Homo sapiens: one gene and its partner. The protein of the gene in region 2 purifies or fractionates together with the protein of the main gene of each other region. This does not show direct contact. Each region holds a gene or a part of one and is shown on either strand. Other genes may lie near its edges.

What was found. Proteins that work in one complex are often made in the same cells at the same time.
Region 1: the proteins of ZBED1 (region 2) and USP22 purify together in Homo sapiens (affinity purification with mass spectrometry; 2 studies listed by BioGRID and IntAct, with this or other methods). This does not show direct contact.

What each region holds. Positions count from the first base shown.
Region 1 is NC_000017.11:21,014,933-21,020,054, reverse strand, and holds part of USP22 (ubiquitin carboxyl-terminal hydrolase 22), read left to right. Parts: intron 1-869; coding exon 870-971; intron 972-1,943; coding exon 1,944-2,113; intron 2,114-4,155; coding exon 4,156-4,303; intron 4,304-5,122. UniProt on the Homo sapiens protein: Deubiquitinase that plays a role in several cellular processes including transcriptional regulation, cell cycle progression or innate immunity.
Region 2 is NC_000023.11:2,493,739-2,498,860, reverse strand, and holds part of ZBED1 (E3 SUMO-protein ligase ZBED1), read left to right. Parts: intron 1-5,122.

The DNA of each region.
Region 1 (5,122 bases), on a different chromosome or scaffold from region 2:
CCCAGTGTTTTGAGAAGGGAAGAATAGCAACAGGGGCTCTTTCAGTGAGCAGAATTATTTGTGTTTAACAAGTCTTCTCTGGAGAGCAATCTCTGACTTGTGTTCGCTGTTCTTTTCCCTCTCAGAAATTTAATAACATTGTGACTAAGTGTGGGTGTATTATTCTGTGCAGAGCACTTAAAGCACGGGCCTAAGAAATGTATGTCCAGGATTAAAATGGAATTCTTCTAGAATCATTTTATAATTCTGTCTATCCAACATGCTGTGTCTTTTAAAGTATTTTGAAGTATTCAGAAATGTTGGTTGGCATGGAACAAGTACTTCTGAGCGCATAGGGTGTGCGTTGAATGGAATACTATGCCAATTAGCATTTACCACCACTCTCTGAATATTTTGTGGCACACACGTTTTTAACTGTTGGATCTATCTTAGTTTGGTAACTCGACGCTGAGTTTATGCTATTTCAGTTTGCTGAAAAGTGCAAGCTCTCTCCTTCAATTTCACTTGTTTGCGGGAGAATCCTTCATGTAAGTTCCCATTGGTGCTGATGCTGCCATCTCTGTGCTGAAGGATGGAAGACATTTGAAAAACAACTGTTTTGGCATTGGCGTTGGGGTAGTTTTGACTGGAGGTGCTGCTTTTCTTGCAGGAAACGTAGCTCACATCCTCATACCCTCTGTGAGAAGCTCCTTTAAGTGTTGTGTGTAGCCCCTCTCAGCACAGTAGAGTTTGAGAAAGCCCTGGTGCTGTGGATGTTGCTCACTGAAATGCACCCTGACAGACAGCATAGCGCCACAGCTTTTATGTGTAAACACACTTGATGTGAAAATCTAGCTAATAGCGCTTGGAACTGTCCTTCATCTGCTTAGGCGTTGGAGAGAAGTTTTCAACTTGGGAACCAACCAAACGGGAGCTTGAACTGCTGAAGCACAACCCGAAAAGGAGAAAGATCACCTCGAACTGCACCATAGGTGGGTGGAGCGTGTCGTCACTCTCAGCTAGGCTTCTTTCCAGGGTTTAAAAGTAAATACAGAATTGTGGGTTTCTTAAGTCCACATGATTCTGTTGAAGCCCTGCATAACTGTCACTCATCAATGTGCTCAGCAACCAGCTCTTGAGCACCTGTTCTCTGCAGGGACCTGCAGTGGGCTTGGGGCGCAGAGTGATGCGTAGCAACAGCCCTGCCCTCACAGCCTTCAGCGTCTGTGTGGGTAAAGGGACTCAAGTTGATTTTGGCCAGGGTGAGGCTGGGCACAGTAATCTTCAGGGAGAGAAATGATGTGTGTGAGTGTAAGTGTTCGCTGAATTTTCTACAAATTGAGGGAATACCCTTTAAAACTTTTTCTTTTTCTTTTTTGAGACAGAGTCTTGCTCTGTTGCCCAGGCTGGAGCACAGTTCACTGCACCCTCTGTCTCCTGGGCCCAAGCGATCCTTCCACCTCAGCCTCCCAAGTAGCTGGGATTGCAGGTGCACACCACCATGTTTGGATAATTTTTGTGTTTTGCGTAGAGACATCTCACCATGTTGCCCAGGCTGGTCTCGAACTCCTGGGCTCCAGTGATCCTCATGCCTTGGCTTCCCAGAGTGCTGGGTTACAAGTATGAGCCCCTGCCCTGGCCCTAGAACATTTTTAAAAACCTGTTTTGTTTGTTCATTAGGCTTCACTCTGACCTGGCCTGTTGTCGTAGAAACTATATTTGTGTAATTCTGTCAAAGCATACAATGGCTGAAGTGGGAGGGGTCCATGGTGGTGGACATTCTTCAATACCGTTCATGTAAAAGTGGCATAAAAACTAGCAGAATGCGATATCTCATCGTGTTCTGGCTTGAATGAATGAATAAAAGAAAATGAGTATGTAGAGGTAGAGGAAGCCGCTGGGATCCAGCGACACCTGTGGTTCAGCACACAGGTAACTCCTGCTCTCTGGTGATTTGTGTCCAGGTCTGCGTGGGCTGATCAACCTTGGGAACACATGCTTCATGAACTGCATCGTGCAGGCCCTGACCCACACGCCACTTCTGCGGGACTTCTTCCTGTCTGACAGGCACCGCTGTGAGATGCAGAGCCCCAGCTCCTGTCTGGTCTGTGAGATGTCCTCACTGTTTCAGGAGGTGAGCGCCATTGACTTCTGCAGGGGAACATTTCTGTTACTTTGTTTTCACCTTCAAAAAAAAAATTTAAGGTGGACCATGATAAAGGAAGATACATTTAGAACCTTTTGTAGTAAGTTAATGTTTAATATACATGTCTATTATGGAAAACACAGTTTTCCAAAAAGGGAAGACCTGGCGTGATTTTTGGGGACGCACTGCTGACTCAGAACAAGGAGAAGCCCTTTGAGAGGCTTGTGGCAGAGACTTCCCTGGTGGGTGACATTTGTCTCTAAAGACGGGTGATTCTCCCCCTTCCTCTTCCTCCATGGTCTACCTTCCTGGCTCAGAAAGGCACGCATGTGTCACCCTCCTGTGTCCTCCTGGTATGCGAGTCTCCTCCACCGCCAGGTCTCTCTAAGCATGCCCCATCAGAGCCTCTGTCCTCATGAGCTACGCGCTGCACGTTGGCTGTTCCTGTGGGCTGCACGTGTGGCGTTCCTGTCCACTTCTGTCCCCGGCATCAGAGCATGGCAGCGTTCAGAGCAAGGCGTTCACGGCTGCCGCCTCAGCCCTCACCGGCTCCGTGACCTAGACATGCTTCTCAGAGCTGAAGCAGCTCAGTTACCTCAACTAATAAGCAGGCTGGTGCCTGTTCTTCAGGTGCCTTGCACAGGAGCCAGCCAACAGCCCTGGCCTGTTCCCATTCGTAACCTCTGCGAGAGATGCAGCCACGCCAGCTCACTCATGTCTGTCTGGTCACTGGTCGCTTTTGTGGGACAGCCACAGAGTTGAGCAGTTGGACAGAGGCTATCCAACCTGCAAAGCTGAAATTATTTACTGTCCAAGCCTTTCAAAAACAGATTGCCAGCCTCTGGTCGAGCCTAACCGATTTCCTCAAAGTACCTGCAATGTGCCATAACTGCTGGGGACACGGCCCAAATAGGAGAAAGGAGGGTGCAGCTGGGAAGTTGGTGGGTGGTTGTATCACTGACTTTAGTGATAAGCTCACTTGTGTTAGATTGTTTTTAGACTCCGGCTTGTTAAGGTGTAAATTACAGTCACACCCACCTTCTAGCCTATAGATAGATGAGTTTCGACGAATGCATAGTTGTGTAACTGCTGCTACTCAAGATGAAGAACTGTTACCTCTCCGAACTCCCTCGTGCCCCTCCGAAGTCAACCCCCAGTCCCCAGACCCTGGTAGCTGCCGATCTGTCTTCGGTCCCTTGAGTGTCCTTTACCAGCGCATCATACGGATGGATGCATGCAGGAAGTAGCCTTTCTGAATCTGGCTGTCCCTACTTAATGTAATACTGGGTGGATTCACCCGTGTCTTGCGTGCATCCATGATGTGTGCTTTCGATGTCTGAGTTGGGTTCCATTATGTAGATGGGTTATGGTTTAGTTGTCTGTTTCCCAGTTCAGACACATTTGGGTGGTCTGTGGTTTTGGGTTTTTTGATGAGAAATAAAACTGCCCTGAATTCTGTATTTGCACAGGCAAGACCCCTCTGTGGGTTCTGACCTGGGGAGGAAGCCGTGGGATGGAAGGTGTGCTGCTGGGTCTGCGGCTGGAGTTGAGCTGTTGGAGAGGACTGGCTGGCAAGCCCTCAGCTAATTGCCATTAGCCTCAGAGGCAGAGAATCCTGTGGCTGATGCTGGTGAATTCTGCATAATCACAGTGATGTGCTTCCCTTTGCGGAGGTGCTGGTGTCCATGGGCCTGAGTGGTTTGGCTAGTGCTTTGAGGAAACTAGTATTGGGCAAATCGAGTCACTTTTATTTGCATGTGATCTCATAGTAGCAAGTCATAATTCATTTTTTAGGCTTATATGTGGAAAACTAGATGGTAGAAAGGAAAAAATTCATATGAGGACTCGAAAAGTCCAGTGAGCCCAGATAAAAATAGACTTTGCAAAAAGTAGAAAAGTAAAATCCAAACATTTGTGTCAAATGAGCCACAGCCAATGGTAGGCATCTGATAAAGGTTTTGATTGTGTGTACTCTGTGTTCAGAGTCTACATTTATTCCTGACAAGGTTTCCTTCCCCGCCCTCTGGCAGTTTTACTCTGGACACCGGTCCCCTCACATCCCGTATAAGTTGCTGCACCTGGTGTGGACCCACGCGAGGCACCTAGCAGGCTACGAGCAGCAGGACGCCCACGAGTTCCTCATCGCGGCCCTGGACGTGCTCCACCGACACTGCAAAGGTGGGCCCTGGGCTCTGCACCCTCCACCAGGGCAGGATGTTTTCCTTGAAGGGGAAGGAAGCAAAGCGAGTGTATGCACTCGTGCAAAAAGGGGCACAGGTGACACATTCCATTGTTTTGTCATCATAGCCCTTGTCGTCATTTGTTTCTGAAGTCACCATAACTAATGACCTCAGAGAGGCTCCTCCTAGTTTATTTTTAAGAGGCGAGGAAGTAGTTCCAGCAGTATGACAGGTCCTCAGTGACCGATCACAGTGAACAGCAAACTCTTGGAGCCCTCTTGGGCCTGTGCTTTGAGGCCCCTGCCTGCCCTGGCATTTCTGGGACCCTGTGGGTTATCAGGCCTGAGGCTTCTGGACATCCCCCAAACACAACTTAATCACCCAACTGTCTCCTTCCCATTGGGGACTCTCCAAAAGGACTGATGGTTGCTCTGAAATAGCCAGAGAGCTGGGACACAGGACGAGCAAAGCTTCTCTTGGGGTCTCATTGGACCTGGGCCATCTCCCCCAACATAGTCCCACAGCCTGGCCCCAGGGTGGTACCCTGATGATTTTTCAGAGTTGTGTGGTGTTGGTAGTTGGCAGGGGCAGCTCTTAGCGCTGGAGGTGGGAGGCTGGGAATGAATGACTTGAGCCAAGATCGGCTCCTCCCCACTCCTCATGGTGGAGATCCCAGTGTGAGGGACCTGCAGCTGAAGTCTATCCATACAGGCAGAGAGACTGAGAGGTGATTCTCAGATGAGTGTGGGCTGGTCACTTGCAGGTCTTCCTAAAGCCCGTGCTGGCGTTTCTGATTCAGCAGATCTGTGGGGGGCAG
Region 2 (5,122 bases):
TTGCAAGGTGAACGGTTTACAGCTGCTGAACAATTGTGTGGAGTCTCGCAGAAGATTATGTTTATCCGGGCAGTTTTGCTTACAGAAAGGTCCCCTTAAACCTCCTTAAGGGCCTGTGTGGGCCCTGGCAGAAGAGGCCGGGGTTCCTGCAGCAGCTCACCAAAATGCTGGCCTTTGAAAAACTTGCTCTTTGTGCATTAGAAAAAGGGCTGGAATCTTTTTTTTTTTTTTTTTTCCCATTTACTGATTAAACAACAACAGAAGGTTGTTAAAGAGGACGAGCTTCTGGTGAAGTCACGTGTCTGCCAAGGGAATCTGTACCCGGGTGTGTATCGAAACAGAATGGCCTTCTCTAAAGATTAACTTAAGTGGCTTGCCCTCATCGAGCCCCTTCCTATGTATGGATTAAAAATAATTTTCGATACCAGTGGAGGAATGCTGTTGTCCTTGGTCTGCTGGTGGCCAGCTTCCTAAACGGCATTTTTTATTTGCTTCTCTCTGGTAGGCCTTCGCTGTTGGTGAGGAAACATTGAACTTTGTCCAGGGCATTTGAGCTAAGCTGTTTGAATAACCAAGAGGGCCAATTTCCCCACTGCAGATTGGAAGCAAGGGCAGTTTTTTCTTAGAACTTCCAAATGGAGCGTGTTCTTCTTAGGTATCGTACAAAGGAAATGCCTGGGTTACACCTTCCACATGAGTTGACTTACATGGTATGAGAAGGAAGAAATTGTGGCTGGAATCCACTCCTAAATGGTGTCTTCTTACAGTTCATCATGGAAAAACAAGATAATTACAAATTAATCATAGATGTTGGTCATGCCTTTACAGAGGGGGTTTAGAAGCAAATTGAGAATTCCCATAAGAGGGTCTGTCTCTGTGTTCTTAAGACTATATCCATGCGGCCCATTCAGTAAGTTGTATCTGTTGGTTGGATTTTAAAATAGATGATTTAATCAGTGCATTTAATATCCTAATATGGCATCAAAACTTGAACATTGATATGGCCTGAAATCTGTTGAAAATGATCATATTGAGTAAAGAAAGTCTCTACCCACCGGTATTAATAACAGGGTGATCTGTTTAGAAATTACATTTTCTCTGATACATCAATGAGTTTTGCAAAGGAGAGAAAATTGATGGTACCTGTAGTCAAGTCCAGTTCCAATACTGCCACAGAATTTTTCTTAAAAGTTCTATTGTAAATAATAGGCCACAGAATATTCCTTCACTTTCTGGGATGCAAAATGGATTCGTAAATGCTGTACCACAGGAGTGAGTATTTACAAAAAATATGCCAACTGGCCCACTTACAAAGCTATTTATAGAAGTCCTACTTTTCAAACTATTTTTTTTTTAACCTGTAAAGGGAAAGTTAATTCTTGTTGGTTTTATGAGTAGTGAACAGTGGCTATTAGAAATCAGGTAGAAGTAAAAACAGCAGTTTTCCAACTTCTTCTTCTTTTTCTTGAGACCAAGTTTCGCTTTTGTTTCCCAGGCTGGAGTGCAATGGCGTGATCTCAGCTCACCACAACCTCTGCCTCCCGGGTTCAAGCGATTCTCCTGCCTCAGCCTCCCGAGTAGCTGGGATTACAGGCATGTGCCACCATGCCTGGCTCATTTTGTATTTTTAGTGAGATGGGGTTTCTCCATGTTGGTCAGGCTGGTCTCAAACTCCTGACCTCAGGTGATAGTCCACCTTGGCATCCCAAATTGCTGGGATTACAGGGGTGAGCCCCTGCCCCCGGCCTCCAATTCCTTGATCATAGAATCTCTTTCAAAAAAAATGAGGACCCCAGACAGTTTTTGTTTTTGTGGATTATAACAGTCAATAAGTCATCCTGTTAGACATTAAAACAGAAATTTAAAACATATTTAACAATCTATTTAAAAGTAATGGTAACAGGCCAATTACATGTTACATACAAAAATGTATGTAATATATTTATTGTTTTTATATTTTATTTTTATTAAATATATATATTTTTAGAATAATTTATACTTTTCTATAAATATAAAATACAAATAAGTTATATTTATATAATTTAGATGTAAATAAAAACAATTGATATTTTTATATAAATATATAAATGTGTACACTTATGGGGCACAGTGTGATGCTTTGCTGTATGTTTGCATTGTGGAATAATTAAACTAATATCTATCACCCGCTATTTTTCCTTTGCGGTGGGAACATTTAAAATCTCTTTTAGCTATTTTTGTTTTTTATTTCCATAGGTTATTGGGGAACAGGTGGTGTTTGATTCCATGAGTAAGTTTTTTAGTGGTGATTTGTGAGATTCTGGTGCACCCATCACCCAAGCAGTATACACTGCACGCAAGACATTTAAAATCTCTATTGGCGGGCCGGGTGCGGTGGCTCATGCCTATAATCCCAGCACTTTGGGAGGCTGAGGCGGGTGGATTGCCTGAGCTCAGGAGTTTGAGACCAGTCTGGGCAATACAGTGGAACCCCATCTCTACTAAAATACAAAAAATTAGCTGGGTGTGGCAGTGTGCGCCTGTAGTCCCAGCTACTTGGGAGGCTGAGGCAGGAGAATGGTGTGAACCTGGGAGGTGGAGGTTGCAGTCAGCCAAGATTGCGCCACTGCACTCAAGCCTGGGCAACAGGGCGAGACTCCGTCTCAAAAAAACCAAAAAAACAAAAAAACAAAAACAAAAATAAAAACCTCTTTTAGCTATTTTGAAATATGTAATACACTATTAACTATCGCCACCACGCTGTGCAGTAGGTCACTGAAACGGATTCCTCCTGTCGAACAGAAACTTGGTACCCTTTGGCCATGTGCTGTATGTTTTTTAAAAGAAAAATGATTGTCATTTCCAAAATAACAAAAACCTAGGGAGAAGAGTGGCTGAGTTTTAGGGTTTTGTCAGTCTCATCCATAAAGGGACGGATGGCGGCTGGCTCCTTCCTCTGCTTCTTCACACTGGTCTCTTGCGACGTGTCGTTCTGGTAAGAGTCATGTGAGGCACATCCACTGGCCTCTCATGGATGTGCAATTGGAAACGTGAAATCGCCGGCCCCCTGAGAGCGTTTTGGGGAGTGTCCCCCCCAAACCCCCCTCCCCCCGCACTGGGGATGCTGCACCAGTCTTGAAGAATGAGGCAGTGAGAGGCTGGTTTACAGCAACCTTTATTCGTGGCCTTGTGTGCTCGGAAGCGCTGCAAGGGAGGAGGAAGGAGGAAGGAGGGTACTCACTGCAGAAGGTCAGCTCTGCTGTGGCTGTTACGTGGGTTCAGGTGGAACCCACCTACTGTGTGGACGGTTCTTTACCTGGGAATCCCATGGAATTCTGACAGCAGGAGACGTGGGAGGGAGCTTCTTGTTTCTCCTTCCAGGAGTCACTTGGTTAGGGGTTTGGGAATTTTGGCTCTTAGTACAAAACTTCACTCCAGGTACTAGACCTGTTTCAGCCAAATGATGATCATCATAATAGAATAGAAACCTTTGTTCACCTAAATAATAACAATAATATTAATAATAATAGAATATAAACCTTTGTTCATGGTACTGGGGCGTCTTTCAGCCCAATAATAATAACAACAATAGGAATAATGATAATAATGATAAAATATAAACCTTTGCTTCACGTCCTGGAACGTCTTTCAGCCAAATAATAATAATAATATTAATGATAATAGAATATAAACCTTTGTTCAGGGTACTGTGACTTCTTTCAGCCCAGTAATAATAATAATAATAGTAATAATGATAATAATGATAGAATATAAACCTTTGCTTCATCTCCTGGAACGTCTTTCAGCCAAATAATAACAATAATAATAATAATGACAATAGAATATAAACCTTTGTTCAGGGTACTGTGACCTCTTTCAGCCCAGTAATAATAATAACAGTAGTAATAATGATAATAATGATAGAATATAAACCTTTGCTCCAGGTCCTGGGAGCTCTTTCAGCCAAATAAGAATAATAATAGAATATAAACCTTTGTTCACAGTACCAGGACCTCTTTCAGACCAACAATAATGACAGTAATAATAATTATAATGATAATAGAATATAAACTTTTCTTCTAGGTACTGGGACCTCTTTCAACCAAATAATAATAGTGGAATATAAAACTTGGCTCTAGGTACCAGAACCTTTTTTCAGCCAAATAGTAATAATAAGAATAGTATTAATAGAAAACAGACCTTTGGTCCAGGTACTGGGACACCTGTGAGCCAAATAATAATAATAATGATAATAATAGAACATAAACCTTTGACTGAAGTGCCAGAACCTTTTTCAGCTAAATAATAATAATAAAATATAAACTTTTGTTCCAGGTACCCGGACTTCTTTCAGCCTAATAATAATCATAGAATATAAACCTTTACTACAGGTCCTGGCACCTTTCTCAGCCAAATAGTAATAAAATAGAATATAAACTTTTGTTCTGTTACTGGGACCTCTTTCAGCCTAATAACAAAAGTAATAATAATAGAATAAAAACCTTTGCTCCAGGTTCTAGAACCTCTTTCAGCCTAATAATAATAATAATGATAGAATGAAAATTTTTGTTCCAGGTGTCGAGACCTCTTCCAGCCTAATAATAATAATAATGTAATAATATAAGCCTTTGCTACAGGTACCAGGACCTGTTTCAGCCAAATAATAATAACAGCAATGATAATAGAATATAAACCTTGGCCCCAGGCACTGGGACTTCTTTCAGTCAAACAATCACAATAATAATAATAATAATAGAATATGGATGTTTGCTCCAGCTTTCAGGACCTCTTTCAGACAGATAATAATAACCGAGTACAAACTTTTCTTCCAGGTATCGGGACCTCTTCCAGCCTAAAAACAATAGTAATAATAGCATATATATCTTTTTTTTTGTTTTCTTCTTTCTTTGAGACGGAGTTTTGCGCTTGTTGCCCAGGCTACAGTGCAATGGCGCCATCTCGGCTCACTGCAACCTCTGCTTCCCGGGTTCAAACGATTCTCGTGCCTCAGCCTCCCGAGTAGCTGGGACTACAGGCATGTGCCACTACCACGCCCGGCTAATTTTGTATTTTTAGTAGAGGAGGGGTTTCACCATGTTGTCCAGGGTGGTCTCAAACTCCTGACCTCAGATGATCCACCCAC